Regions from separate parts of the Homo sapiens genome. Here regions 1 and 2 are each linked to region 3. Evidence: fine-mapped expression QTL. A gene starts in region 3. Each other region holds a variant in brackets. All regions are shown on one strand. Distances are from middle to middle. Region 1 holds the start of FOLR1-AS1 (FOLR1 antisense RNA 1). Region 2 overlaps FOLR1-AS1 (FOLR1 antisense RNA 1). Region 3 holds the start of FOLR3 (folate receptor gamma).

What was found. PIP is the estimated chance that this variant, and not a neighbour inherited with it, causes the effect. A credible set is the group of variants that fine-mapping cannot tell apart.
Region 1: its variant is the best candidate, but not a certain one, in a credible set for the expression of FOLR3 in whole blood (TOPMed, PIP 0.60).
Region 2: its variant is the best candidate, but not a certain one, in a credible set for the expression of FOLR3 in whole blood (TOPMed, PIP 0.83).

What each region holds. Positions count from the first base shown.
Region 1 is chr11:72,208,466-72,216,221 of GRCh38, forward strand. It overlaps FOLR1-AS1 (FOLR1 antisense RNA 1), which reads right to left and starts at 776. Exons shown (of 3, transcript NR_199595.1): 1 at 582-776. The variant C/T (reference allele first, on the strand shown) is at 3,504.
Region 2 is chr11:72,166,425-72,174,180 of GRCh38, forward strand. All of the region lies in intron 2 of FOLR1-AS1 (FOLR1 antisense RNA 1), which reads right to left. It also overlaps the pseudogene FOLR3P1. Among named protein-coding and RNA genes, the nearest start is that of FOLR1, 22 kb to the right of the region's middle. The variant G/A (reference allele first, on the strand shown) is at 3,619.
Region 3 is chr11:72,130,417-72,138,172 of GRCh38, forward strand. FOLR3 (folate receptor gamma) reads left to right here and starts at 5,309. Exons shown (of 5, transcript NM_000804.4): 1 at 5,309-5,352; 2 at 5,531-5,704. The coding sequence starts at 5,537. It also overlaps the pseudogene RPEP6.

The sequences.
Region 1 (7,756 bases), 78 kb after region 3:
CTTGCACCACGGAGATCATGGAGCAAACAAACAATAGCCCTATTACAGCTTTAGCAAGGGAACTTCATGAAACTTTCCTCTGGCTCACCCCATAAATAAATCCAGGTCTACTCATTCTTACAGGAAGGAGCTTGGCCATGCACTGAGTGCCACTACTTCTATGGCTCCAACCCTGGGATCTGTCTCCTTAATGACCTAGCTCTTGAAGTTGATGGAGCTTTGCATTCCTGGGTGGGCTGAGACCACAGAAAATGAAGAGGTGAACATATAATAGGCACGCTTCCAACAGCTATTTCCCCAGGATCAGAAGGCACAACCTGAATGTTAGTAAAGGCATTTGCCACAGATTTTCTCCTCAGCTTAGTGCAGAGAGAATGGGAGATAAACACCTGTATTCAGGTTTACCACAAAGATAGAAGTAGCTGAAACACACACCCAACACTCCAACATTTCCAGCTACACCTACAGAGTCTGGCTCCTGCTTTACTGGTCTCAGAATACTGAAATGATATGACATAAACTCCAGGGGGGCACCAAAAACAGAATAGAGGTCTGGACAAACACAAAGACTTGAGAGGTACCTTAAAATCTCTGGTCAGACAGATAGGTGAGAGCCTTCTCCTACACGAGGCCAGTCGGACAAGACTGAGAGCGATAGTGATATGCTCAGGCTTTGTGTCCCCAGCCAAATCTCATCTTGAAGTATAATCCTTGTAATTCCCACAAGTCAAGGGAGAGGCGAGGTGGAGGTAACTGAATCATGGGGGCAGTTTCCCCCATGCTGTTCTTGTGATAGTGAGTGAGTTCTCAGGAGATCTGATGGTTTTGCAAGGGGCTCCTCCCCCTTTGCTCGGCACTTCTCCTTCCAGCTGCCTTGTGAAGAATGTGCCTTGCTTCCCCTTAGCCTTCAGCCATGATTCTAAGTTTCCTGAGGCCTACCCAGCCATGCTGACCTTTGAGTCAATTAAACCTCTTTCCTTTGTAAGTCACCCAGTCTTGGGAAGTTCTTTATAGCAGTGTGAAAATGGACTAATACAGATAGTTATTTTATCTAATGTGCAGAAACCAACACAGAGAGTCAAGGAAAATGAAGAAATAGAGGAATATGTTCTAAATAGAAGAACAAGATGAATATCCAGAAACTGACCTGAGTGAAGTGGAGATATGTGATTTACCTGACAGAGAATTCAAAATAATGACCATGGAGATGCTTACTGAGGTCAGGGGAGCAATGTAAGAACAAACTGACAATTTCAATAAAGAGATAAGAAGTATTTAAAAAGTACCGAATAGAAATAATAGAGCTGAAGAATACTGTAACTGAAATTAAAAATTCAATAGAGGGGTTCAATAGTAAACTAGATCAAGTAGGAAAAAAAATAGTGAATTTGAAGACAGGTTACTGGAAATTACAAAATCTGAGGACTAAAAAGGAAAAAATAATAAAAAAAGAGTGAGGATAATTTAAGAGACTTATGGAACACCATGAAGCATAACGACATAGACATTATCAGTATATCAAAAGGAGAAAACAAAGAGAAAGGGCTAGAAAACATATTCAAAGAAATAATGGCAGAAAACTCCCCAAACCTGGGGAAAAAAATAGAAATCCAGATCCACGAAGCCCAAAGGACATCAAATAAGATTAATCCAAAGAGACCCACACCGAGACACATCATAATCAAACTGTCAAAAGTTAAAGACAAAGAGAGAGTTTTGAAAGCAGAAAGGGAAAAGTGAAACATTACATGCAAGGAAACCCATAAGATTATCAGTGGGTTTTCAGCAGAAACCTTGCAAACCAGAAAGAAGTAGAATAATATATTCAAAATCCTTATAGGAAAAATAAATTTTAACCAAGTACAATACCAAGGAACCCTGTCTTCCAAAAAGGGAGAATGATAAAGACTTCCTCAGACTAACAAAAGCTGAGAGAATGTATCACCACTAGATCTGCCTTATGAGAAATGCTAAAGGGACTTATTTAAGCCAAAAGAAGAGGATGTTAATTAGTAACATGAAAATATATGAAAGTGTGAAACTCACTGGTAAAAGTAAGTACGTTGTCAGGCCCGATGTGGTGGCTCACACCTGTAATCCCAGCACTTTAGGAGGCCGAGGCAGGTGGATCACCTGAGGTCAGGAGTTTGAGACCAGCCTGGCAAACATGGTGAAACCCTGCTTCTACTAAAAATACAAAAATTAGCTGGGCACATGCCTGTAATCCCAGCTATTTGGAGGGCTGAGGCAGGAAAATCACTTGAACCCTGGAGGCGGAGGTTGCAGTGAGCTGAGATCATGCCACTGCACTCCAGCCTGGGCAACACAGCAAGACTCTGTCTCACACACAAAAAAAAGTATGTTGTCAAATTCAAAATATTTAAATGCTATAATGGCAGTAGGTACATTAATTTTATATCTCTAGTAAAAAAGGTTGAAAGATCCCAGCTACTTGGGAGGCTGAGGCAGGAGAATTGCTTGAACCCAGGAGGTGGAGGTTGCAGTGAGCCGAGATCGCACCACTGCACACAAGCTTGGGCCACAAGAGGGAAACTCCGTCTCAAAAAAAAAAAAAAAAAGTTGAAAGAAAAACTAGTAAAAACAAGTAAAGCTACAGTACTTTGTTAAGAATACAAATTATTTTACTTTAGAGAGCTGAGGCAGGAGGATCACTTGAGCTCAGGAGTTTGAGACCAGCCTGGGCAACATAGTGAGACCTTGTCTCTACTACACAGGTGTAGTTTGTACCTGTATAGGTAATGTAATGATATTGACAAGGGAATTTAAGACAAAAATTGTTAAGAGACAAAGGAAGTCATTTAAAAATGATAAAAGGGTCAATCCATCAAGAAGACATAGCAAATATAAATATAAATGCAACTATCAACAGAGTCCCAAAACACATGAAGCAAAAAATAACAGAATTGAGGAGAGAAATACTTTATTCAACAATAACAGTTGGAGATTTCCATATCCCGCTACCAGTAGTATTTAGAAAAACTAGGTAGTAGAGAACTTGAACAACACTATCAACCAACTAGACCCATCAGATATCTACAGAACACTCCAGCCAAACAACAGCAGAATATATACTCTTCTCAAGTACACATGGAACACCATATTTTGGGCCATTAAAAAAGGTACCAATAAATTAAAAATAATTGAAATAGAAGAAAATATCTTCCCTGATCACAATGGAATGACATTAAAAAATAAGATAAGAACATTCAGGAAATTTACAAATATGTATAAATTAAATATACTCGTAAATCACAAGGGAAATTAGAAAATGCTTTAAGATGAATGAAATGAAAACACAAAATACCAAAACCTAAGGGAGGTAGCTAAAGCAGTGCTTGGAGAGAAATTTAGATTTGTAAATGTCAATATGAAAAAGAAGAATAACTTAAATCAATAAGCTAACCTACTACCTTAAAAAAAACAGAGAAAGGGCCAGGTGCAGTGGCTCATGCCTATAATCTCAGCACTTTGGGAGACCGAGG[C/T]GGGCAGATCACTTGTGCTCAGGAGTTCGAGACCGGCCTGGGCAGCATGGCGAAACACCGTCTCTACAAAAAATACAAAAATTAGCCAGGCGTGGTGGCGTGTGCCTGTAGTCCCAGCTACTCAAGAGCCTGAGGTAAGAGAATCACTTGAGCCTGGGAGGCAGAGGTTGCAGTGAGCCGAGATGGCACCACTGCACTCCAGCCTGGGTGACAGAGTGAGACCCTGTCTCAAAACAAAACAAAACAGAAAAAGATGAGCAAAATAAACTAGGAAAAAGAAGGAAATAGTAAAGATTAGAGCAAAAATAAATGGAATAGAGGATAGAAAAACACCAAAAATCAACAAAATCAAGTTAGTTCTTTAAAAAATCAACAAAACTGATGAGCTTTATCTAGATTGATCAAGAAAAAAGGAGAGAAGAATCAAATCAATAAAATCAGGAATGACAAAGGGAAGATCAGTACTGACCTCACAGAAATATAAAGGATTATAAGGGAATAGTATAAACAATTGTATGCAACATATTAGTTAACACCGATAAAACGAACAAATTCCTATAAAGTCACAAACTACCAAAGATAACACAAGAAGTAAAGAATACAAATAGACTTGTGACAAGTAAAGAGGTTGAGTTAGTAATTTTAAAATTTCCCACAAAGAAAATTTCAGGCCCAGATGGCCTCAGTGGTGGTTTCTACAAAATGTTATTTATTTATTTACTTATTTTACAGACAAGGTCTCGCTCTGTCACCCAGGCTGGAGTGCAGTGGCATGATCACAGCTTCCTGCAGCCTCAACCTCTTGGGCTCAAGCAATCCTCTCACCTCAGCCTCCCAAGTAACTGGGATTACAGGTGCATGCCACCATGCCTGGCTAATTTTTTTTATTCTTAGTAGAGACAAGATTTCACTATGTTTCCCAGGCTCGTATCGAACTCCTGAGCTCAAGTGATCCTCCCACCTCTGCCTCTCAAAGTGCTGGGAGGACAGCCATGAACTACCGCACCTGGCTCAAATGTTTAAAGAACAATTCATACCAATCCTTTACAAACTCTTTCAAAAAATAAAAGGAGGAAATATTTCTCAACTCATTCTGTAAGTTGTATTATATGAGCCAGTATTACCTTGTTATAAAATCGGACAAAGATATCACAAGAAAAGAAAACATAGATCAATATTCCTTACGAATTAAGACATAAATCTGCTTAACCAAATATTAGCAAACTGAATCCAGCAACAGGTCAAAAGTATATACTATTACTAAGCAGGATTTATTCCAGGAATGGAAGTTGGCTTAGCATCCAAAAATCAATTGATGTTCACCGTATTATTAGAATAAAGGACAAAAACCACATGATCATCTCAATTAGTGAAGAAAACCTTGTTTGACAAAATTCAATATCCTTTCATGATTAAACAAATGCTGAACAAACTAGAAATAGAAGGGAACTCAACCCAAAACCCAATGAAGAGCATCTCTGAAAAAACACATAACATCATATTCAATGGTGAAAGGCTTTCAACCTAAGATCAGGAATAAGAAAAGGATATGTACTCTCACCATGTCTATTTAAATTGTACTGAAGGTTGTAGTTAGTGCTATTATTCAAGAAAAAAGAAATAAAAGGTATCCAAATTGGAAAGCAAGACGTGAAACTATTTTTACTCATAGATGATATGATATTGTATACAGAAAATTCTAAGGAATCCATAAAAACAATATCATTACCACTAAATGAGTTCAACAAGTTTCAGGATACCAGATCAAAATACAAAAATCAATTGCATTTCTATACACTAGCAGTGAACAAATATGAAAATGAATTTAAGAATATGATTCCTAATCCCAGCACTTTGGGAGGCCAAGGCAGGCAGATCACGAGGTCAGGAGATCGAGACCATCCTGGCTAACACGGTGAAACGCCGTCTCTACTAAAAATACAAAAAATTAGCTGGGTGTGGTGGCGCGCGCCTGTAGTCCCAGCTACTCGGGAGGCTGAGGCAGGAGAATGGCGTGAACCTGGGAGGTGGAGGTTGCAATGAGCCAAGATCATGCCACTGCACTCCAGCCTGGGGGACAGAGCATGAGACTCTGTCTCAAAAAAAAAAAAAAGAATATGATTCCATTCATAATAGCATCAAAAAGAATAAAATATGTAGGAATAAGTTTAACAAAAGTAAAAGTTACAAGTAAAAGACTTGTAACTATAAAACATTGTTGAAAGACATTAAAAACCTAAATACATAGAAACAAATCTCGTGTTCATCAGTCAGAATACTTAATATTGTTAACATTGCAATACTCTCCCAAACTGATCTACAGATTCAACTCAAGAGCTGTCAAAATCCCAGCTGTCTTTTTTGTAGAAATTGACAACCTGATTCTAAAATTCATATGGACATGAAAGAGATCCAGAATAGCCAAAGCAATCTTGAAAAAGAAAAAAATTGGAGAAATAACACTTTTCACTTTCACAACTTACTACAAATCTACAATAATCAAGACAGCATGGTAGTGGCACAAGGAGAGACATATACATCAGTGGAATCAAACTGGGAGTCCAGGTTTTTGACAAGGGTATTAAAACATGGGGAAAAGAATAGTCTTCAACAAATGGTGCTGGGACACAACTGGATATTCATATGCGAAAAAAAGTTGGACCTTTATCTTACAGCTTTACACAGGTGTAATACACTTGTATAAATACATCTTTATACAATATTAAAAACAACTCAAAATAGATCCATGACCTAAATAAACATAAAAGCAAAAATGATGAAAGTCTTTGAAGAAAACCTAGGCAAAGAGTTTCATGACATTGAATTAGGCAATGAGTTATTGAATATGAGACCAATAGCACAGGAAACAAAAGTAAAAATAGGTAACTGGACTACATCAAAATTAAAAACTTCTGTCCATCAAAGGACAATCAACAGGCAACATACAGAATGGGAGAAAATATTTGCAAATCATATACCTGATAAAGGGTGAATTCAGAATACATAAAAGAATACTACAACTCAACAAAAAGAAAACTCAATTTTAAAAATAGGCAAATGACTTGAATAGACATTTCTCCAAAGAAGATATACAAATGGCTAATAAGCATGGAAAAAGATGCTCATTATCACTAATTATTAGAGAAATGTACATCAAAGTCACAATGAGATATCGCCTCACACTCAACATGATGGCTACTATAAACCCAAAACTCCCAAAACAGGAAATAAGTGTTGATGAGGATGTGGAGAAATTGGAACCTTTGTGCACTGCTGATGGAAATGTAAAATGGTGTGGCCACTACAGAAAACAGTGTGGCAGTTCTTCAAAAATTAAATATAGACTTACCATATAATCCTGCAATTTCACTTCTGGATATATACCAAAAAGAATTGAAAGAAAGGTCTTAAAGACATATTTATATGCCCATTTTCATAGCAGTATTCTTCATGATAGCCAAAAGTGGAAGCAACCCAAAGGTCCATTGATAGATGAATAAATAAAGAAAATGTGGTACATACATACAATGAAATATTACCCAGCCTTAAAAAGGAATGAAATTCGGATACACCTTACAACATGGACAAATCTTGGGGACATTACGAAAAGCCAGTCACGAAAAGACAAATATTGCATGATTCCACTTGGACAAGGAACTTACAGTACAGTAGCCCAAATCACAGAGACGGAAAATAGAATGGTGGTTGGCGGGGGCTAGGGAAAGTGAAAGTGGGGAATCGTTTAATGGATATGGAGTCTCAGTTTTGCAGGATGAAAAGTTTCCAAGATTGATTGCAAACAGTATGACTATATTTGACACTGCTGAACTGTACCGTTAGAAATGGTTAAGATGGCACATTGTATGTCACGTGTGTTTTTACCACAATTTTTAAAAGGCCATCAAAAATTGCTTAATTATGTTTTCAGAAATGCCAGATGGTAATATATTGCTGTTTAACATATTTGAGACAATTTTAATTTTTCTGTGACCCTTGACTTCTATACCTCAACTTTTTTTTTTTTTTTTTTTTTTTTTTGAGATGAAGTCTCGCTCTGTCGCCCAGGCTGGAGTGTAGTGGTGCGATCTCAGCTCACTGCAACCTCTGCCTCTCGGGTTCAAACAATTCTTGTGCCTCAGCCTCCCAAGTAGCTGGGATTACAGTGCACGCACGGCACCACACCCCACTAATTTTTGTATTTTTAGTAGAGACAGGGTTTTACCATGTTGTCCAGGGTAGTCTCGAACTTCTGA
Region 2 (7,756 bases), 36 kb after region 3:
ATGACTTTAGAATTTATTGACAAATGTATGGTGTTTTGAAACATAATTTCTCTCTCTCCAGTCCTCATTTTTGTTAAAAAAGCAAATTATGGTAGGATTGAGTTGTTTGCAAAATAGACTTTAGTCATATACTTGGCCTGATTATTTGCATAAAGTGCAGCAAGAATAACTATTTCTACATAAGTCTTTTAGATTGGCTTTGATGGAACTCTGTTCTTCAAGGAATTTCAGACAAAACGTTTTAAAACTGAGCCCAGCCATGGATTTGTATCCTCAAATACCTGTAAGTTGGATGATCTTCTCGTGTTAAGGTCCCATGACAAATTTGGAGCTCCTAGACCTGTTAGAAAGTGACATTCTTGGCCAGGCGTGGTGGCTCACACCTGTAATCCTAGCACCTTGGGAGGCCGAGGTGGGCGGATCACCGGAGGTCAGGAGTTCGAGACCAGCCTGGCCAACATGGTGAAACCCTGTCTCTACTTAAAATACAAAAAATTAGCTGGGTGTGGTGGCAAGTGCCTGTAGTCCCAGCTATTTGGGAAACTGAGGCAGGAGAATCACTTGAACCTGGGAGGCGGAGGTTGCAGTGAGCCGAGATCATGCCACTGCACTCCAGCTTGGCGACAGAGCAAGAGTCTGCCTCAAAAAAAAAAAAAAAAGAATACTCACGGATAATTTCCAAATTCTGGAGAAGCCAGGCAGAGAGAGAGAAAAATATGCTTCAAATTTTGTTCACAGGAGTGTAGCTTACTCTAGTATTAAAGGCCTTAAAGAGTTCAAAATAATTTTCCTTGACTCTGAGAAACAAAACAAGGATCAGCAATATTCCAAGCAAAAGTCAAAAAGGTTGCTTCAGCTTTCTGAGTTCAGTCCATTCAGTTCTTGTTATGCTTGATATTCGTGAACATTTTAGCTCTTCATGAGTCCTGTACATTTTCCTTTATTCCAATATCACAGTCTCCAAAGTTATCAGAAACCTGTATTTGAGAGCACCTGTCAGAGTCCTATAGCTTATTACAAACCAACTTTATTTTTTTTTGAGACAGGATCTTGCTCTGTTGCCCAAGCTGGAATGCAGTGGTGAGATCTTGGCTCACTGCAACCTCCACCTCCTGGATTCAAGCGATTCTCCTGCCCCAACATCCTGAGTAGCTGGGATTACAGGTATGTGCCACCATGCCCGGCTAATTTTTGTATTTTTTTTTTTTTAGTAGAGATGGGGTTTTACCATGTTGACCAGGTTGGTTTTGAACTCCTGACCTCAGGTGATACCCCTGACTTGGCCTTCCAAAGTGCTGGGATTAAAGGTGTGAGCCACTGCACCCAGCCGGATCAGGCACTTTTAACTTGAAAACATGAAGTTCTCTTTCCTAACTTTTTTCTTTCTTTCTTTTTTTTTTTTTTTTCCGAGACAGGATCTCACTCTGTCACCCAGGCTGGAGTGCAGGGATGCCATCACAGCTCACTGCAGCCCTGACCTCCTGGGCTCAAGCAATCCTCCCAGCTCATCCTCCCAAATGGCTGGGACTATAGGCTTAGACCACCATACCCAACTAATTTTTGTATTTTTGTGTGAAGATGAGGTCTCCCTATGTTTCCCAGGCTGGTCTTGATCTCCTGGGCTCAAGCAATCCATCAGCCTTGGCCTCCCAAAGCACTGGGATTATAGGCATGAGCCACCAAGGACGGCCCCCTAATGTTTTTTATATTGGCTAATGAGCTTTAAGTTTATACATACAAGGCATAAAGAAATAACTTTAAAGTTATGTTATTAGATGTACAGTGATATGATTTAGCTCTGTGTCCCCACCCAAGTCTCATCTTGTAGCTCCCATAACTCCCATGTGTTGTGAAAGGGACCTGGTGGGAGATGATTGAATCGTGGAGGTGGGTCTTTCCCGTGCTGTTCTCATGATAATGAATGGGTCTCACAAGATCTGATGGTTTTAAAAACGGGAGTTTCTCTGCACAAGCTCTCTCTTTGCCTGGTGCCATCCACATAAGATGTGACTTGCTTCTCCTTGCCTTCCACCATGATTGTAAGGTCTCCCCAGCCATGTGGAACTGTAAATCCAATAAACCTCTTTCGTAAATTGCCCAGTCTTGCATATGTCTTTATCAGCAGCGTGAAAACAGATGAATACAGTAAATTTGTACTGGGAGTGGGGCATTGCTGAAAAGATACCCAAAAATGTGGAAGCGACTTTGGAACTGGGGAACAGGCAGAGGTTGGAACAGTTTGGAGCGCTCAGATGAAGACAGGAAAATGTGGGAAAGTCTGGAGCTTCCTAGAGACTTGTTGAAGGGCCTTGACCAAAAGCCTGATAGTGATATGGACAATAAGGTCCAGGCTGAGGTGGTCTCAGATGAAGATGAGGAACTTGTTGGGAACTGGAGCAAAGGTAACTCTTGTATGTTTTAGCAAAGAGACTGGCAGCATTTTGTCCCTGCCCTAGAGATTTGCAGAACTTTGAACTCGAGAGAGATGGTTTAGGCTATCTGGTGGAAGAAATTTGTTTATTATTATTATTATTATTATTATTATTATTATTATTTTGAGATAGAGTCTCACTCTGTCACCCAGGCCAGAGGACAGTAGCGTGACCTTGGCTCACTGCAACCTTCGCCTCCTGAGTTCAAGCGTTTCTCATGTCTCGGCCTCCCAAGCAGCTGAGATAACAGGCATGTGCCTCCATGCCTGGCTAATTTTTGTATTTTAGAAGAGACAGGGATTCACCACATTGGCCAGGCTGGTCTCAAACTCCTGACCTCAAATGATCCAACTCAGCCTCCTGAAGTGTTGGAATTACAGGCATGAGCCACCACACCTGGCTGCGGAAGAAATTTCTAAGCTGCAAAGCATTCAAGAGGTGACTTGGGTGTGGTTAAAGGAATTCAGTTTTATAAGGGAAGCAGAGAATAAAGGTTCAGAAAATTTGCAGCCTGACAATGCGATAGAAAAGAAAAGCCAATTTTCTGAGGAGAAATTCAAGCCAGCTGCAGAAATGTGCATAAGTAACAAGAGGAACATTAACCCCCAATACAATGGGGAAAATGTCTCCAGGGCATGTCAGAGGTCTTCTTGGCAGCCCCTCCCATCACAGGCCCAGAGGCCTAGGAGAAATGGTTCCGTGGGCCAGGTCCAGGGTCCCCGTGCTGTATGTAGCCTAGGGACTTGGTGCCTTGTGTCCCAGCTGCTCCAGCCATGGCTGAAAGGGGCCAACATAGAGCTTAGGCCATGGCTGCAGAGGGTGAAAGCCCCAGTCCTTGGCAGCTTCCACGTGGTATTGAGCTTGCAAGTGCACAGAAGTCAAGAATTGGGGTTTGGGAACCTCCACCTAGATTTCAGAAGATGTATGGAAATGCCTGGATGCCCAGGCAGAAGTTTGCTGCAGGGGTGGGGTGCTCATGGAGAACCTCTGCTAGGGCAGGGCGGAAGGGAAATGTGGGGTTGGAGCTCCCACACAGAGTCCTTACTGGGGCACTGCCTAGGGCAGCTGTGAGAAGAGGGCCATTGTCCTCTAGCCCCAAGAATGGTAGATCCACTGACAGCTTGCACTGTTTGCCTGGAAAAGCTGCAGACACTCAATGCCAGCCTGTGAAAGCAGCCGGGAGGGA[G/A]GCTGTACACTGAAAAGCCACAGGGGCGGAGCTGCCAGAGACCATGGGAACCCACCTCTTACATTAGTGTGACCTGATATGAGAGATGGAGTCAAAGGAGATCATTTTGGAGCTTTAAGATTTGACTGCCCTGCTGGATTTTGGACTTGCAGGGGCCTGTAGCCCCTCTGTTTTGGCTAATTTCTCCCATTTTGGAGTGGCTGTATTTACCCAATACCTGTACTCCCATTGTATCCAGGAAGTAACTAACTTGCTTTTGATTTTACAGGCTGATAGGCAGAAGTGTCTTGCTTTTTCTTTGCTGAGACTTTGGACTGTGGACTTTTGAGTTAATTCTGAAATGAGTTGAGACTTTGGGGGACTGTTGGGAAGGCATGATTGGTTTTGAAATGTGAAGATATGAGATTTGGGAGGGGACAGGGATGGAATGATATGGCTTGGCTGTGTCCCCACCCAAATCTCATCTTGTAGCTCCCATAATTCACTCATGTTGTGGGAGGGACCTGGTGGGAGATGATTGAATCATGGGGGTGGGTCTTTCCCATGTTCTTGTGAGAGTGAATGGGTCTCACGAGATCTGATGGTTTTTAAAACAGGAGTTTCTCTGCACAAGCTCTCTCTTTGCCTGCTGTCATCCACATAAGATGTGACTTGCTCCTCCTTGCCTTCTGCCATTATTGTGAGGTCTCCCCAGCCATGTGGAACTGTAAGTCCAATGAACCTCTTTCTTTTGTAAATTGCTCTATCTCGGGTATGTCTTTATCATTCCTGAAAATGGACTAATACATACGGCAATACTCAAGAGAGCAAGTGTGGATAGCTTGGGTTCATGAGGTTTTTGGTTTTTGTCAAAAGCATAAATGTATACTGAAACTACCCAGAAAAAGCAAAGTATAAAACAGTATGCTACCATTTGTGCCCATAAATGGGATATGTGTAGTGTAAATGCATAGAATTTGACCAGATGTATACCCAGAGACCAGAACACTCAGTGGCCTCATGTTCATACTTTGGCAAACACATGTATAGTATCCTTAACTTAAATGTACCATTGTTGTGTGCATTCTAGTGTTATTGACATTTACATATCTATTATCAAGTCAGATAAATCATTCTGTGTCTTTGTATTTTCACTTCCTATTTTGTATATTTATGTATACATACACACATACCAATACATATTTAAATAAGGTATAACTTCACCTGGTCCAAAAATCAAAACAACGTAGAAAGGTTTACAGTGAAAGGTCGCATCCCTGATGCTGTCCTCTTCCCCCAGGTGATCACCTTATTGGTTTCTTTTCATACCTTTCAGCATTTTCTCCTGCAAGCACAGATATTCTAACTCCTCCTTTTTTACACAGAATTTTTTTTTACATAGCATTCTTCTGCACCTTCCTTCTCCCACTTCACAATGCACATGGAGATTTTTCCGTATTTGTACATCAGGAGCTTCCTCTTTCTTTGTTACCACATTAAATTCCACTGGGTAGATGTACCATAATTTAACTGGGTCCTTATTGAAAGACAATTGAGCTGTCTCCTAGACAAAGCCTTGTGCACCTTCCCGAACAGAGGGTCTAACCAAGCAGGCAGGATGGGGTTATAAAGTAGGTGGGGAGGTGGGAGAGACTCCACCCTCCCAGGTGGGCTGAGGATGGAGGTAAGGCCCTGCAACAGGACAGAGGGAAAAGTGGGGATGAGACATGGGAGGCGAGATAGCGCTCACTGTTCTCGCTCAGCCCCCTCCTCCATTTGCCGCTGACCTGTTGGCCTCCCCCAACCTCTGAGCCTGCCTCTGCCTAGGTAATTTCCCAAGACCCAGGAGGGGTGAAGGGTGAGGTGCGATTGCCCCCACCTCCTTGCCTCCCGCAGCATCTGCTCCAGGACCATGAACAATAGCTGACAGCTCCATGGCCCTTGCTGTCCCCATCTCAGCTTCCCTGGGCATCTAAACCTCAGTTGCCGTGGGGTAGGAGGACAGGCTGAGGAAGCAGAAGCCTGAGGCTGTCTAGAGTCTCACTCCTGCATCAGCAGGCCACCACCTGTGGTTCCTCCTTGTGCAAATTTGAGAGGAATTGCATAAAACACTGGAGAAATCCAAGAGGGGAAGTCCACAAGGGCGGTGGCTCCCTCCATGATCTCAGAGCAAGCTGGTGTCAGAACCTGGACCTAGAGCACTGTTGGGTGGGAAGTAGGAGGAGAGTCCTGCCTCCAGGCCAGCCGGGGAAGGGCTCCCTCTCACCTCTACACGCAGCGCATTTCTTGGCTCAGCTGCCCTGTAGGGGATGCAGGGTGGGGACAGCAGAGATCTGGGCCTGGGAGGGAGACAGTACACAATCACATGGCTGTTGCCCCTCCCTCAGGCCTTGTCTACCTCTGACTGTGGCTCTCTGGCAGGAATAGATGGACATGGCCTGGCAGATGATGCAGCTGCTCCTTCTGGCTTTGGTGACTGCTGCGGGGAGTGCCCAGCCCAGGAGTGCGCGGGCCAGGACAGACCTGCTCAATGTCTGCATGAACGCCAAGTACCACAAGACACAGCCCAGCCCCGAGGACGAGCTGTATGGCCAGGTGAGGATAAAGTCGGGTCTGGGGCAGGGGAGAGAGCTGCCTTTGACAGAGAAAAGTTAGCAGGGTGAAGTCAGCTGTGGAAGGTGATGAAGGCAGAGGATGACTGCTGTGATCCTGGAGGGCCTCCCCTGGGAGGACACCAAATCTACAATAATAAAGGAACCACATACCTAACACCCACTATGAGCCTATGAGCCTTGTGCTTTCACTCATGCCATGTTAGTGAATATGCCCAAAGGGCAGGGTGGGTGCGTGGTAGTCTCTACTTACGCAAATGAGGAAATAGGCCCAGAGAGGGCGCAGGTGCAAGTGGGAAATGAGGAGAGGGACTGTCCATACCTTTCCCAGCCTTAATTGTGTGCCAGCCCACAGAGCTCAATGGCACAGTAGAAGAGGAGCTGGGCCCATCATGGTCATGGTGCAGCCTACATGTACAAACAGTCCAGGTTTCCACCCCCATTAGGTACTGAAGAGACAACGACCAATCCAATATGCTGGGGAGACTTCCCAGGCAAGAGACCATTGGCCTTGACCTGGGAAGATGAGTAAGAGTTTTCTAGGAGGAAAAAGCGGGAAAGGGCAGCCTGGTAGAGGACAGCATGCACACAGGTCAGAGGGTGATGGCACGAGCAATGGCGGGTCCAGTGTGGCCAGAGCCAGCGGTGCCACTGCCCACAAGGAAGGGGAGGGGAGGCCAGGGCCCTCATGCCACAGGTAAGGCCACTGAGGCAGCTCGGGGAGTATGAGCTCCAATTTGAATTCCAAGCTCAGGAGAGTGCCTGTATTTCATTTCTCTGGTCTCCTGGCCTGCTCCCTAGAAGGGTTCACATTCCCAGAGGGTGAGGATGTGCCCAGGGAGAGACTGTGGCATGGACAGGCTCCGAGGGCTAAAGCAAAGAGAGGACAGCCTGGAAGCCCTGTGACATCTGAGTCATTCCCAACATTCCATTTGCTTATTTTAAAATCAGGGTAAAATTTAAAATAAATAAATAAAATAAGTTCTCCATTTTAGCCATTTTTAACTGTACAGGTCAGTGGCATTAAGTATGCTCATGTATGCCGGGTGCAGTGGCTCACGCCTGTAATCCCAGCACTTTGGGAGGCCGAGGTGGGCGGATCACCTGAGGTCAGGAGTTTGAGACCAGCCTGACCAACATGGAGAAACCCTGTCTCTACTAAAAATACAAAAAAAAAAAAAATTAGCCGGGCATGGTGGCCCATGCCTGTAATCCCAGCTACTCGGGAGGCTGAGACGGGAGAATTGCTTGAACCTGGGAGGCAGAGGTTGCAGTGAGCCGAGATCGCGCCATTGCACTCCAGCCTGGGCAACAAGAGCAAAACTCTGTCAAAAAAAAAAAAAAAGTATGCTCATGTGGTTGTGCAACCATCACCACCATCCATCTCCTGACCTCTTTCATTCTCCAAAACTGAAATGGAAACTTTGTGCCCACCACTTCATTTGCTTTTCAGAACCTTCTAAAGCACCTACTCTTTGCCAAGAAATGGTGCAGATGTAGACTTTGAGAGATACAGATGATTATCATTCTCAGGGCCATGAGCTATA
Region 3 (7,756 bases):
TGATTTTTTAAGTAATTGGGCTTTGGTTTTGTCAGATGCCAACATTTGGGGAAACTGGATGAAAGCATATGGGAAACCTCTTTACTACTTTTGCAATTTTTCTGTTAAGTCTAAAATTATCTCAAAACACTAAGTTAAGAAAATCAAATAAACTTGATGTCTTAAAACAATACCAATTAGGCTGGGCGCAGTGGCTCATGCCTGTAATCCTAGCAATTTGGGAGGCTGAAGTGGGCCGATAACCTGAGGTCGGGAGTTCGAGACCAGCCTGGCCAACATGGTGAATCCCCACCTCTACTGAAACTACAGAAATTAGCCTGGCATAGTGGCATGTGCCTATAATCCCAGCTACCTGGGAGGATGAGGCAGGAGAATCACTGGAACCGGAAGGCAGAGGCTGCAGTGAGCTGAGATCACACCACTGCACTCCAGCCTGGGGGACAGAGCAAGACTCTGTCTCAAAACAAAACAAAACAAAAACACAATACTTATTTACTTATACTTCAAGATTTTGTGAGTTTAATTATACTTCAAGATTTTGTGAGATTTTGCCCAAGAATTTGGGCAAGACTCATGATTGGCCCATCTTGGCCGGGCGTGGTGGCTCACCCCTGTAGTCCCAGTATTTTGGGAGGCCTAGGTTGGAGGATTGTTTGAGCCCAAGAGTTGAAGACCAGCCTGGGCAACATGGCGAAACCTCCTCTCTACAAAAATACAAAAATTAGCTGGGCGTGGTGGTGCGTGCCTGTAGTCCCAGATACTCAGGGAGGTTGAGGCTGCAGTGAGCCATGATGGTGCCACTGCACTCCAGCTGGGGTGACAGAGTGAGACCCTGTCTCCTAAAAATAAAAAATAAGGTAAAATAAAGATTGGCCCATCTACCCTCAACAGTTGCCTGGACTCCCTGGGGCTCAGTGCACCTAGATGCTGGACTCGGATAACCATCTGATCTTTGATGTAGTGGACAGACACTTTGTTCTTGCCATCATCTTTGGTACCTGAGATAGAAAGCCTTAAAGAGAGGCCACGCCCATGATTAAGTTTCAGGTCAAAACAACGAGCAAAAAGGCAACGGCTATAGTTGTAGGTGTAGCAAATCAGTGTGCCTTTTATCTAGAGGCTACTGAAAACCAGACATTCATTAAAGATATTCTGGTCACTTGGATGAAGGCTGGCCTTGGCATTCACCTGAATCTTTAGTAGAGTCTTTAGCACCATTGGCAACTCAGCCAGACCTGGCCTTGGCCACGATAGTGGAGCCTGGGATTGGAGGGCATGAATTTTATGAAGCCTGTAATATCAGAAATTCGTTGGTTGAGGACATACCTCTTTCTTTTTGGACCCTGTGGGCGTAATGCTATTGATACATGTGCAGAGGAGGAATTAATATGACTGTGATTGACAGAATAATTATGAAGTGCAAAGACCTCAGATCTGTGATCAGCTTCCATAGAAGTATTTGCTCAGAAGCTTCTCAGAAACATTCTCATGATTGAAGAAGCCTTGAAGAGCCCGTATTTCTGTCTATGAAATCTCCTGTTTATTGTACTATGAGGACCCATCAGAAAGTAACTGAGGTAGTGCTGATTTCCTGAGCAATTATTCAGTCCACTGTCTCAAATCCATCATGCAGAATGTTCACAGAGGGTAAAGTAAGTTTGACTATTATAACTACTCACTTTTATAAGTGATTTAATTTAAAGATTAATATGATAAGTACTCTGTTTTTCCTGGGAATTTTGTTGTAGAAAGAGTAACTGCTGTGTGGCTAAACTAAGGTTATAAGCCAAATTGTTTCCTCAGAGTTTAAGAAACACAATACTAACTCTCATGGGTTTACTAGTTGTCTGTTGCTGCATAACAAATCATTCCATAATTTTGTGGTGTATTGCTGCAGACAATGTTAAACTAAGTGGATGAAAAGGATATTCACATAGTCTCAGAGTGTCTCCCTACAAGGTAGGATTACTAACAAAGGGAAACTAATAATTATATAGTAAGGAAATCTCCTTAACCCAATAATCACCAGCAATAAGATGCAGCAACCCTCATCATGTACCTCTTGATATGATGCACTGACAAAAGCACCTCTCTTCTCTAATTTTCTTGCCAAAATGCATAAGCTCAAGCTAATTACAGGAAAATATAGACAAACCCAAATTGAGGGACATTCTGCAAAATAACTGAACAGTAATTCTCCAAAAGTGTCAAGGTCATAAAAGACAAAGACATTGAGGAACTGTCACAGATTGGAGGGAGACTAAGGGGACATGACAACTACATGCAACCTGGAATCATGGACTGAATCCTGGGCCAGAGAAAGGACATTGGGGGGGAAACTGGTGTAAAGGGCATAAAGCTTGTAGATTAGTTAACAGTATTGCCTCAATATTAATTTCCTGATTTTTTTAAGAACTGGGCTTTGGTTACATAAGATGCCAATATTTGGGGAAGTTGCATAAAAACATACGGGAAATCTTTTGACGATGTTTTGCAGTTTTTCTGCAAATCTAAAATTATTTCAAAACAAAAAGTTTAAAAATCAAATACACATAGTTGCTTGAAATAGTAACTATTTTATTATATTCCAAGATGTTGTGAGTCAGGAATTTGGCCAAAACTCAGGTGGGCGATTCTTCTGCAAAGACCCCCACAACACATTCAAAGTCACAGGCAGAGGTTGTTGGGGGAGGGCATTGAAAAGAAGAGAAGAGTCATAGGTGGGTGCAATGGAGGGAGGGCAGAGGGCTGCTGACTATGGTGCAGGACTCATCCATAATGGAGCCCTGGGGAGGCAAGGGCTTCATAACTAGACACTGGTCTTGTCACCTCAGACTCACCTGTAGCAGGACCAGATACTGAGGTCAGACTGAAAACACAGGCTCTGCCTCAGGAGAGGCTCTCTACTAGCTGAGTAAATGATGACAGTATTGGAAATGTTCCCAACATCATAATGGGAAAACATCACTTCACACTACATAAGCAATACACAGGGGCAGTGCCGGTCGTCTTCCCAGGTTAGTAGCAGTTCTACTGCCTCCAAGAGTGTTGGAGAAATACAAACCAAGCATTAGGCACTTTTAACTTGAAAACATGAAGTTCTCTTTCCTAACTTTCTTTGTTTCCTTATTTCTTCTTCTTCTTCTTCTCCTTCTTCTTCTTCTTCTTCTTCTTCTTCTTCTTCTTCTTCTTCTTCTTCCTCTTCTTCTTCTTCTTCTTCTTTCTTCTTCTTCTCCTTCTCCTTTTCCTTCTTCTTTTTTTGCTGAGACAGGGTCTCACTCTGACAGTACAGTGGTGCCATCACAGCTCACTGCAGCCTCGACCTCCAGGGCTCAAGCAATCCTCCCAGCTCACCCTCCCAAATGGCTGAAACTACAAGCTCGCACCACCATACGTGGCTAATTTTTCTATTTTTGTGTGCAGATGAAGTTTTCCTATGTTGCCCAAGTGGTCTCAAACTCCTGGGATCAAGTGATCCATCCACCTCAACCTCCCAAAACGCTGGGATTACAGGTGTAAGCCACCACACCCAGCCCACTAACTTTTTTATATCGGCTAATGAAATAGTTTTAAGTTTAGACCCTACGAGGCATAAAGAAATAATTTTAGTTATGTTATCAGATGTACAGTAATACTCAAGTGTGCAACTGTGGATAACTTGAGTTCATGAGGTTTTTGTTTTTTTGTCAAAAGAATAAATTTATAGTGAAACTACCCAAAAAAGCAAAGTACAGAACAGTATGCTACCATTTGTGCACAGAAATGGGATATATATGGTGTAACTGCATCGAATTTACTGGATGTATGTCCAGGGACCAGAACTCTTGGTGGCTTCATGTTCATACTTTTGCAAGCACATGTGTAGTATCCTTAACTTAAAGGTACTGTTGTATACATTCTAGTGTTATCAAAATTTACATACATATTATCAAGTCAGAGAGGTCATTCTGTGTCTTAGTATTTTCACTTCATATTTGGTATATTTATGTATGTATACACACATACCTATATGTATTTAAATAAGATTTATAGTCACATGGTCCAAAAATCAAAACAATGTGGAAAGGTTTACAGAGAAAAGTCTCAAGCCTAATCCTGTTCTCTACTGCCAGGTGACCATGTTATTAATTTCTTTTCATACCTTGCCACAGAATTTTCACCTGCAAACACAGATATTCTTTTCTTTTTTAATGACAGAGTCACGTTCTGTTATCCAGGCTGGAGTGCAGTGGCGTGATCTTGGCTCACTGCAAACTCCTCCCGGGTTCAAGTGATTCTCCTGTCTCAGCCTCCTGAGTAGCTGGGATTACAGGCATGTGCCACCACACCCAGCTAATTTTTGTATTTTTAGTACAGATGGGGTTTTATCATATTGACCAGGCTGATGTCGAACTCCTGACCTCAAGTGATCCGCCTGCCTCGGCCTCCCACAGTGCTGGGATTACAGGCGTGAGCCACCACGCCCAGTCAACACAGACATTCTTACTCCTTTTTTACAGAGAATTTATTATTATTATTTTTTACATAGCATTTTTCTGCACCTTTCTTTTTCCACTTAACAATGCACTTGAAGATTTTTCCATATTTGTACATCAGGAGCTTTCTCTTTCTTTGTTACCACATTAAATTCCACTGGGTAGATGTACCATAATTTAACTGGGTCCTTATTGAAAGACAATTGAGCTGTCTCCTAGACAAAGCCTTGTGCACCTTCCCGAACAGAGGGTCTAACCAAGCAGGCAGGATGGGGTTATAAAGTAGGTGGGGAGGTGGGAGAGACTCCACCTTCCCAGGTGGGCTGAGAATGGAGGTAAGGCCCTGCAACAGGACAGAGGGAAAAGTGGGGATGAGAGGTGGGAGGCGAGATAGCGCCCACTGTTCTCGCTCAGCCCCCTCCTCCGTTTGCCGCTGACCTGTTGGCCTCCCCCAACCTCTGAGCCTGCCTCTGCCTAGGTAATTTCCCAAGACCCAGAAGGGGTGAAGGGTGAGGTGTGATTGCCCCCACCTCCTTGCCTCCCGCAGCATCTGCTCCGGGACCATGAACAATAGCTGACAGCTCCATGGCCCTTGCTGTCCCCATCTCAGCTTCCCTGGGCATCTAAACCTCAGCTGCCATGGGGTAGGAGGACAGGCTGAGGAAGCAGAAGCCTGAGGCTGTCTAGAGTCTCACTCCTGCATCAGCAGGCCACCACCTGTGGTTCCTCCTTGTGCAAATTTGAAAAGAATTGCATAAAACACTGGAGAAATCCAAGAGGGGAAGTCCACAAGGGCGGTGGCTCCCTACAAGGTCACAGAGCAAGCTGGTGTCAGAGCCTGGACCTACAGCGCTGTTGGTGGAGGTCCTGCCTCCAGGTAGGGGAAGGGCTCCCTCTCACCTCTACACGCAGCGCATTTCTTGGCTCAGCTGCCCTGTAGGGGATGCAGGGTGGGGACAGCAGAGATCTGGGCCTGGGAGGGAGAGAGTACACAATCACATGGCTGTTGCCCCTGTCTCAGGCCTTGTCTACCTCTGACTGTGGCTCTCTGGCAGGAATAGATGGACATGGCCTGGCAGATGATGCAGCTGCTGCTTCTGGCTTTGGTGACTGCTGCGGGGAGTGCCCAGCCCAGGAGTGCGCGGGCCAGGACGGACCTGCTCAATGTCTGCATGAACGCCAAGCACCACAAGACACAGCCCAGCCCCGAGGACGAGCTGTATGGCCAGGTGAGGGCAGCCTGGTGTAGGACAGCATGCACACAGGTCAGAGGGTGATGGCACGAGCAATGGCAGGTCCAGTGTGGTCAGAACCAAGGGTGCCGCTGCTGACAAGGAAGGGGAGGGGCGGCCAGGGCCACCATGCCACAGGTAAGGCCACTGAGGCAGCTTGGGGAATATGAGCTCCAATTTGAACTCCAGGCTCAGGAGTGTGCTTGTATTTCATTCCTCTGGTCTCCTGGCCTGCTCCCTACAAGGTTTCACATTCCCAGAGGGCTGGGGATGTGCCTAGGGAGAGACTGTGGCGTGGACACAATCTGTGGGTTAAAGCGAAGACAGGACAGCCTGGAAGCCCCATGACATCTGAGTCACTCCCAACATTCCATTTGCTTATTTTTAAATCGGGGTTAAAAAAAAAAAACAAATACATAACATACATTTTCCACTTTAGCCATTTTTAACTGTACGGTTCAGTGGCATTAGGTATGCTCATGTGGTTGTGCAACCATCACCACCATCCATCTCCTGACCTCTTTCATTCTCCAAAACTGAAATGGAAACTCTGTGCCCACCACTTCATTTGCTTTTCAGAACCTTCTAGAGCACATCCTCCTTGCCAGGAAATGGTGTGGATGTAGACCTTTGAGAGAGACAGATGACTATCATTCTCAGGGCCATGAGCTATATGAGAGTGATGATATTTGTTGAGCCCTTACTATAGCAAGGGAGTTCTTCTCATTGTACTCAGTAACTCTTTTGGAGGCAACAACCCTTGACCCTGACAGGCAGGACCCATGTCTGCCAAACCCTAAGACCCATGATGTGCAAGGGGTCTTGCAGGAAGACCAAGAGTTGGAACATCCAAGGAAAAGCAAGTGTGAAGTCGGGCTGGCAGGGAAGCATGTTCTGTGTCAGCCGGCACTGGGCGTGGGCCAGGGTGTGGGAGGTGGGTAGGTCTGGCTCCCCTCCCATGGATTTCCCTATTGTTTCTCCTGGGTGCTCAGGCCTGTCACGCCTCTGCCATCACTTGACCCTAGGTGCAAGGGTTCAGCCCAGAAATTTTATGCAATTGATTCATGATTTCTCAGGTTTTCTGAGTCCTGGCCTAGAGTGACTTCCCAAGAAAAAACTCCACCATTTCTGCTTGTCTTACCTGCCTTGTATTTACCTTTCTAGGATTGCCTTTTCCACATTTAGTCAAGTCTAGGTTCAGACCCACGTGCAGGCTATAGCTCCTTCGTTCTCCACCACTCTCAGGATCTATCTAGAGTCTCCCCACCTGGACCTCCAGACCCTGGGAGAGCCAGACCAGCCCCTTGACCTCCACCCTCCCCCACAACCTGGGCCAGGTTCCTCTCCTCCCTGTCCTCAGTTATAATTTTTTTTTTTTTTAATTTGAGGCAGAGTTTCGCTCTTGTTGCCCAGGCTGGAATGCAATGGCATGATCTTGGCTCACTGCAACCTCTGCCTCCTGGGTTCAAGTGATTCTCCTGCCTCTGCCTCCTGAGTAGCTGGGATTACAGGCGCCTACCACTGTGCCTGGCTAATTTTTTGGTATTTTTAGTAGAGACAGGGTTTCTCTGTGTTGGTCAGGCTGGTCTCGAACTTCTAACCTCAGGTGATCCGCCCGCCTCCTTAAATCTTAACCTCACTGTTTACCATGGGTGTAGCTTACTTAAACTCTGTAAAAATGGGGGTAAGGATTCGTACTGGGTTGTTGAGAGGATAAAGCGCAAAAGCCTCAGGGACTTTGCACCTATGGTTTTCTATGCCTAGAGTGTTCTTTGTCTCCCTTCTACACACAGCCCACCCACCCACTAAAACCATACCCTCCCTGAGGGTAGAGGTGTTATTTGTTTTCTTCACTGTGGTGTTCCTAGGACCTAGCACAGTGCCTGATGTATAATCAGCACTCAGTTAATATTGGCTGGATGCAAAATGAATAATATAAATAAGCTGAATAACATGAAATAGGCCGAACGCGGTGACTCACGCCTGTAATCCCAACACTTTGGGAGGCCAAGGAGGGTGGATCACCTGAGGTCAGGAGTTCGAGACCAG